Homo sapiens: one gene and its partner. The protein of the gene in region 1 interacts with the protein of each later gene in a biochemical or structural test. Each region holds a gene or a part of one and is shown on either strand. Other genes may lie near its edges.

The links. Proteins that work in one complex are often made in the same cells at the same time.
Region 2: the proteins of KPNA4 (region 1) and MEF2C interact in a test that uses a peptide from one of them, tested with the Homo sapiens proteins (one large-scale study listed by BioGRID and IntAct).

The regions. Positions count from the first base shown.
Region 1 is NC_000003.12:160,555,572-160,559,071, forward strand, and holds part of KPNA4 (importin subunit alpha-3), read right to left. Parts: intron 1-3,500. UniProt on the Homo sapiens protein: Functions in nuclear protein import as an adapter protein for nuclear receptor KPNB1. Binds specifically and directly to substrates containing either a simple or bipartite NLS motif.
Region 2 is NC_000005.10:88,873,185-88,876,684, reverse strand, and holds part of MEF2C (myocyte-specific enhancer factor 2C), read left to right. Parts: intron 1-3,500. UniProt on the Homo sapiens protein: Transcription activator which binds specifically to the MEF2 element present in the regulatory regions of many muscle-specific genes. Controls cardiac morphogenesis and myogenesis, and is also involved in vascular development.

The DNA.
Region 1 (3,500 bases):
AATATATTGTAAGAAAAGTCATGTGAATGTGGGATCTCTTTCTCTCTAAATATTAATATCTTGTTGTATCACATATTCACCTAGTTTCTGATCACAGTTGACTGCAGGTAACTAAAACTGCAGATAAGGGTGAACTATTATACTTCATTTTATAGCGGAACAATACTCCATTGTATGCATATACCATACTTTGTGCATTCATCAGTTAATGGGTATTTGGGTTGTTTCCTTCTTTTATTTTATTTATTTAAATTATTTATATTTATTTATTATTTTTGAGAAGGAGTTTTGCTTTTGTTGCCCAGGCTGGAGTGTAATGGCCCGATCTCAGCTCACTGCAACCTCCACCTCCTGGGTTCAAGTGATTCTCCTGCCTCAGCCTCCCAGGTAGCTGGGATCACAGGCATGCGCCACCATGCCTGGCTAATTTTGTATTTTTAGTAGAGACGGGGTTTCTCCATGTTGGTAGTGCTGGTTTCCCAACTCCCAACCTCAGGTGATCCGGCCCGCCTTGGCCTCCCAAAGTGCTTGGGATTACAGGCGTGAGCCACTGCGCCCAGCCAAGTTGTTTCCCTCTTTTGGCTGTTATGGATAATGCTGCTATGAACACTCATTTACAAGTTTTTGTGCAGACATTATGTTTGCAATTCTCCTGGATTTATATCTAATTAGTAGAACTGCTGGGTCACATGTTAACTGTTTAACTTTTTGAGGAACTGCCAAACTGCATTCCAAAGCAGCCGTACCATTTTACATTCCCATCAGGCATGTATGAGGGTTCCACTTTCTCCACATCCTCACCAACACCTGTTATTTTCTTTTTATATACTGCCATCCTAGTGGGTGTAAAGTGGTATCTCATCATGCTTTAGAGCTGTGTTTCCCTAATGACTAATGAGGCGGATCCTATTTTTTATTTGTTTATTGGTCTTAATTAAACTTTTCATCATTGAGTATCCCTTATGTGAAATGCTTGGGAACACAAGTGTTTCAGATTTTGGATTTTTTTGGATTTTAGAATGTTTGCATAATACTTAGAGACTGAGCATCCCTAATCCAAAATCTGGTATGCTCCAATGAGTGTTTCCTTTAAGCATCACGTAGGTGCTTAAAGTTTCAGATTTTGGAGCATTGTGGATTTCAGATTTTTGGATTTGGACGCTCAACCTGTACTGTCATTGTTTTAAAGCTGGAGAATAAAAAGGGAATTGGGAAAAATTATTCACAACATTAAGAGAAAAAACGTGAACAAATTTAAGGTGTCTGAAACAGCTGATCAACAATGAACCCAATTCTATAGATATATCTGTAGTAAAATGAACATCTCCACATAATATTCAAAAGTGAAATAAGGAACCAAACCTACCCTAAATAGGTAGGACTATAGGTGTGTGCCACCACACCCAGCTAAATTTTTTATTTTTTGTAGAGATGAGGTCTCACTATACTGCCTAGGATGGTCTCAAACTCCCGGCCTCAAGGAACCAAATCCTCTGCACTATTTTAAAAAGAGCTGGAGAATATTTGGGTTTCACACCTACTAAAGAACAAGGAGTGATGTTAACAATTATTTGAAAACCTTAAGGTATTATCTTGCTTGTTTTTCTGGACCAGTAACAGCTTAAAGTGGCTAAAAAGCCAGTGTGAAGAGGAAGAACAGGTGGCAAACAGGACAGGGCCATTTAATACAACCAAGCAGAGACCACTTAACATAGGTCTTTCGGGATAAAACTACTCAACTAAATAAATTTATGTAACACTTACCTCAAGGGTCCAGAAAGACATACTTTAAAAAACATAAAGAGTAGATATGTGCAAACTAAAGTTTTTATTAAAGAACAGGACACTGAGATAGACTATGATTTACCTTCTAATATTAGACAATATGTCCATCACTGAACTAGTAAAAAACATACTATCTTAGGATTCCGACTTTTGTTAGTAAAAAAATTCATGAAATTCCATGTTTGTCAAAATACATCATTAGTTAAAATCTAATTTACATTAAGTTTAAAGTAAATAAAAATTTAGGGAAAAAATGACAGGTGACTAAATTTTGTCCGAATAGTAAATAAACAGTAATAGAAAATAAGTCAGCATTTAAAAATTTCTATCTATCTGAGATGAGACCTCATTCTTGTCACCCAGGCTGGAGTGCAGTGGCATGGTCATAGTTCATTGCAGCCTCCACTTTCTGGGCTCAAGCGATCCTCCTGCCTCAGCCTCCTAAATAGGTATGACTACAGGTGTGTGCCACCACATCCAGCTAAATTTTTTATTTTTATTTTTTTGTAGAGACAAGGTCTCACCATATTGCCTAGGATGGTCTCAAACTCCCAGTATCAAGCAATCCTCCTGCCTCAGCCTCTCAAAGCAATAGGATTACAGGCATGAGCCACTGTGCCTGGGAAAGTTTAGCATCTTTAATAATCAACTTAATCTTGTATTACCAACAAATATCTATGACCTTAAATCATTTTCATTCTGGGTACTAAATAGTGTGAATTATAGTTGTTTTCTGATTATATTTACAATGTTTTGAGAAAACAGTGACAAAATCTACATAAAGCATTTAGTAACCCACTTAAAACATAGGATTAAAGAAATGAAGTCATAAACTAGTATGTATGTGACAATTTGGCTGAAGTATGTGGGAGAAAGTAGGTTTTCAGGTGACTGTTAAATAAGGGGAATAAGAAGCCTTCCCAAATTTGTATGATGTGGTTTGGATTATGGCACACAGAGGTACAAGAGGAATTTTGTAAGCAAAATGTTATTCTGATATGGAACATAGGGGTTTACTTGGATGCAATGTATGACTATGTAAGTTGGCAGAAATAGTAAGAGGTTCCATTTACTCTGCATGTACTTTATGCTAGGCATTGTTAAACATTTCAAAGGCTTAGACATAATTAAGTTAGCCTCCATAATTACTAAGTGGAGAAACCAGAGTTCAAACCCAGACCTAAGTGACTCTACAGTCCATGTCTTTTAACCCCTATACTATAAGGTCCTTTAAGAGCCTGTATTAATTAAAAGTGACACTCATGTGCAAAAGAAGCAATGGTAAACTAAAAGAGTGGCACTCAAAGCATGGTCCACGGGCCCCTATGTGGGTCCTGAGACCTTTACAGAGAGTACACAGGGTCAAAACTATTTTCCTAATGATAATACTAATACTTTTTTTAAAAAAAAAATTGTATTAACACTTGAATTGATGCCATAGGGGTAAGACTGCTGGTGCTTTAGAATGAATTAAGGTAATGACATCAAGATGCAATAGTTGTCACTGATTTCACATCTAAAATTTGTTTAAAAGTCAGCTCACTTAAGAATTCCTTGAGGAAACAGTAAAAAATGATTACTTTTATTAAATATTGGCCTTTTCTAATTGTGTGAAAAAAATGAAGATTACATATAAGCCACTTCTGCTGCATACCAACTTCTACTTAAGGACGACTGTCTCAAGGAAAAAGTACTTGTGCAACTGAGTTGTGAAC
Region 2 (3,500 bases), on another chromosome or scaffold:
AGAGAATGTGCATCCTTCCCCAAACCCCGAAGACAGGCAGCTTTGGCTTAAATATGCTTATTTATTTTCAAAATTAGAAAATAAACACATTAATGTAAATATGTTGAGACAGACAAAGAAATTTGTCTGCTACTTAATAAACACGCGATTTATACTTTTTGTCTTCTAATTAATTGTCGACCCTGAATAAGGTGGTACAACTAAGGCATATTATGGAAAACTGGCATTATTGCTTAATGTAACATGAGGGATTGGAATTTCTTTAAAGTAATTTTAAGATATGATTATTTAGCAGAAATATTCACTGGAGCATTTTACTTTTAGAAATTATCGTCACACAAGGAAGCCTTTATAGGACCGACTACCTAATTGCAGTCAAAGATCTCTTGAATGAATGAACACACACACACAGAAGAACACACATTTTAAGAATATAGTGGTCCTATATTTTTAAAAATTTTTGCCACATTTTTTATATCTGAACAGAACGTATGTGTCTAAGCAGATGTTTTAAGTTATATCCTTCATGTAGGTGAGTCTGTAAATGTACCATTTAACTTAAATGGCTTTGTGGGAAGGTAGTTTGAGGAGTTTAAAAAGGAAAAAAAAAAAAAAAAAAAACTCCAGTTACTACAGTTTCAGCTCTTTCTTTTTAAAAAACAGTAATTACACTCAGGATAAAGAAAGAAAAATAAACTCTTTTAATTCTTTGTAACATCCACAGTTTTTCAGGTAGAGTTCTGGTATATTTTTATTCCTGAATATGCAGGGCAGGTACTGGCAGCAGAGCTACAAAATGAAAACTTCCTGGCTGCAGACCAGATACTGTGCACAGTGCCACATCATAAACTTCCCCTCTTCTGTCTCGGAGTGATTTCAGCCCTAACTAATGTCCTTTATTTCCCCCTACATAGGGTAAGGAACAGAGGGCCTTCTTCCTGGGAAATAGGGGAAATACCTTTGGGAAAGGAAAAGTATAATGTTTCCCTTCTTTAACTTGAAAATTCTGCCTCTTAAATTACTAAGACATTAACTGCAAAGTGGATTCAGTATGTTTCCTTTTTATTCCCATATAGCAGTTTAGAATACATAAAACAATAGGTGTGAGATAGAAAATGAGACCTCTTCCCCACCCCCTACCTCCAGCACACCCAGACCCAATCAGATATCTGTACTTTTTGTTTCGAAAAGAAAAATATAATGGTTTCTTTTCAATGAAGCTTGTGCATTATATTCCAGATATGTTAGATCATTTTGTGATGCAAATTAGCATTGAGGTTTTTTGTACTTATCTCGGGAAATAGCAACGTTCCACCACAATGTGTGGTGCTGCAAAAATTTTTATTGATAAACACCCACACTTTAAATGATTATTAGGTCAAAATAGAGAGTACAGGGGGAGAAAATGTGAGCTTTTAGTTTTCAGATTTGTTTTATGCTTTTCATTTGAAAGGTACAGTGTAAGTTCTGTGTATAATACCATGCAAAATAAATTGACTTCTAAATATCTGCACTAATATTCCTTGTATCTGAAACTATAGTCTAAAAGCTTGTACTTCTCCTTAAAAAATAAAGTAAAACTTTGTTAAGAAGCAGGCTTTAATTACCAGTTACATTTTCAACTGTTACCCATGTGATTTTTAAAAAATCCTATTAAAAAATAATTTCTAGCTGCCATGGCTCCTTTCAATCAGTAGAATTCTCATTTGTATGAGGTGCAATCAGATTATTGCCAGCACACCTTTCTAAAACTAGCCTTCTTCTTTAGAAATGTATTAAATGGGAGCCTTCAGGAGAAAGTGTTACCACTTAATAAATATTTGTTCTAATTTTATTTTTAAACTAAATTATTGATTTAACAGTATATGAATAGTGTATAAATGTTAGCTTAGTTGTTAACCCACTACACTAATTATTAATTGCCTATATGAAATTTACCAAATTAGACCAACAGTTAAGTGTAATTTAATTTTATTTCTCTTGAAACTTAAATAGATAAGAATGATAATTTTAATTATGTTTAAATATCAAGCATTTATTTTTCTGTGAATGCAAATGTTCCCGATAAATTGTTAAGAAATTAATACAACATAGATCTTAAAAAATGTATAAGGCAGCTTATAAGAATATGATAACAATGGCATATTCCTACACCTGGCACTTTTTCAAGACCCATTAGCAAGGGAGGAAAAAGATGTTAAACTTTGTTTTGTAAATGCTAATATATATATGAGTCAATACTTTCTGACATTTATTTGTTAGAAAATTACACACATTTAAAAATTCAAATTAAAACTATGCTTCTATTTAGGCTATTGTAAGAGATTTCTTTATTTTCTTGGAAATTCTCTGGAACAGTAGGGTCATTTGAATCATACCCGTTGGTATTGTCAGATACATTGTAAAGTTTCAACTATTGAACATATGTATGGAATAGAAATTTTAAAATAGAAAATTCGCTATCTTGCCATTTAAGTATGATAAAACTATACCCGATTAAAACGTTGACTCTATTAGAGGTTCGCCTAGTAAGTAATTCTCTGGTCAAGAATTTGGGAAATTTTAAACTCTGTTAACCATTAAAACAATTACTTCTTTAAGGTACCGGATTTTCATCCATATTTGAGGAGCCTTATTAAGTTGTTGGGTGGTCTTTTTGTAAAGGTTTATGTGGTTAAAAAAGTAGATCTTTTCACCCTTCTATTACAGTTAACATTAATATCTTTAAAAGGTACTATATAAATCCAGACCTAATTTATTCTGGATGATTTTTCTTAACTAAATGAAATCTAACAAATTTGTCTATTTTTAAGTGAATCTTTTTTTTATTTCTAGTATTTATTGGAAGTTCACTTAGACTCTATATAGGTTAGAAGTTAAAGTAAATAATTTTGACTATTTTTTTCTTTCATTTCATGTTTGAATATTTCCCCCTTTACATAAACCAAAAAAAAAAAAAAAAAAAAAAAAAAAAAATCCGTGACGACATTGATAGATTTGCAGAAGGCTGAGTAAGATACTCAGTACCCATTAATTGTTTCCCTATGACTCTTGGGTTGAAATGAATCGGCAATATCCCTTCCAAGACTGTTTGATCTTGCTTGATTTAGAGTGAGCGTTATGTGATTTTTTCCCTCCGCTTCTCTCATTTTATAGCTTCAAAAAAATCAGAGAATTCTTGACTTCAGTGTTTTTTCCTTCCGTTTTCATTGTTTTTGGATTCTCTCCTGTCTGAGCTTCCTTCTTGCTTCAAAGTATTTGGTATCGTGAAAGCAAGTGCACTTTTAACTTGTTTTGACTACACATGGGCGACAGAATTGTTTTAGATGCTAACTTACCTCCTTACACTTGAGAAACTGATGTGGTTCATCACAGCCCAATGCCATGTCTTGAAACAACTGCGGACACTGATCTTGAAATAGCCAGGGCTATAGGATCATGTCTTTGTAAAGAACAACAGCAGCTTTAGAGTCACTGGATGGTATATTCGTTGCAAACAT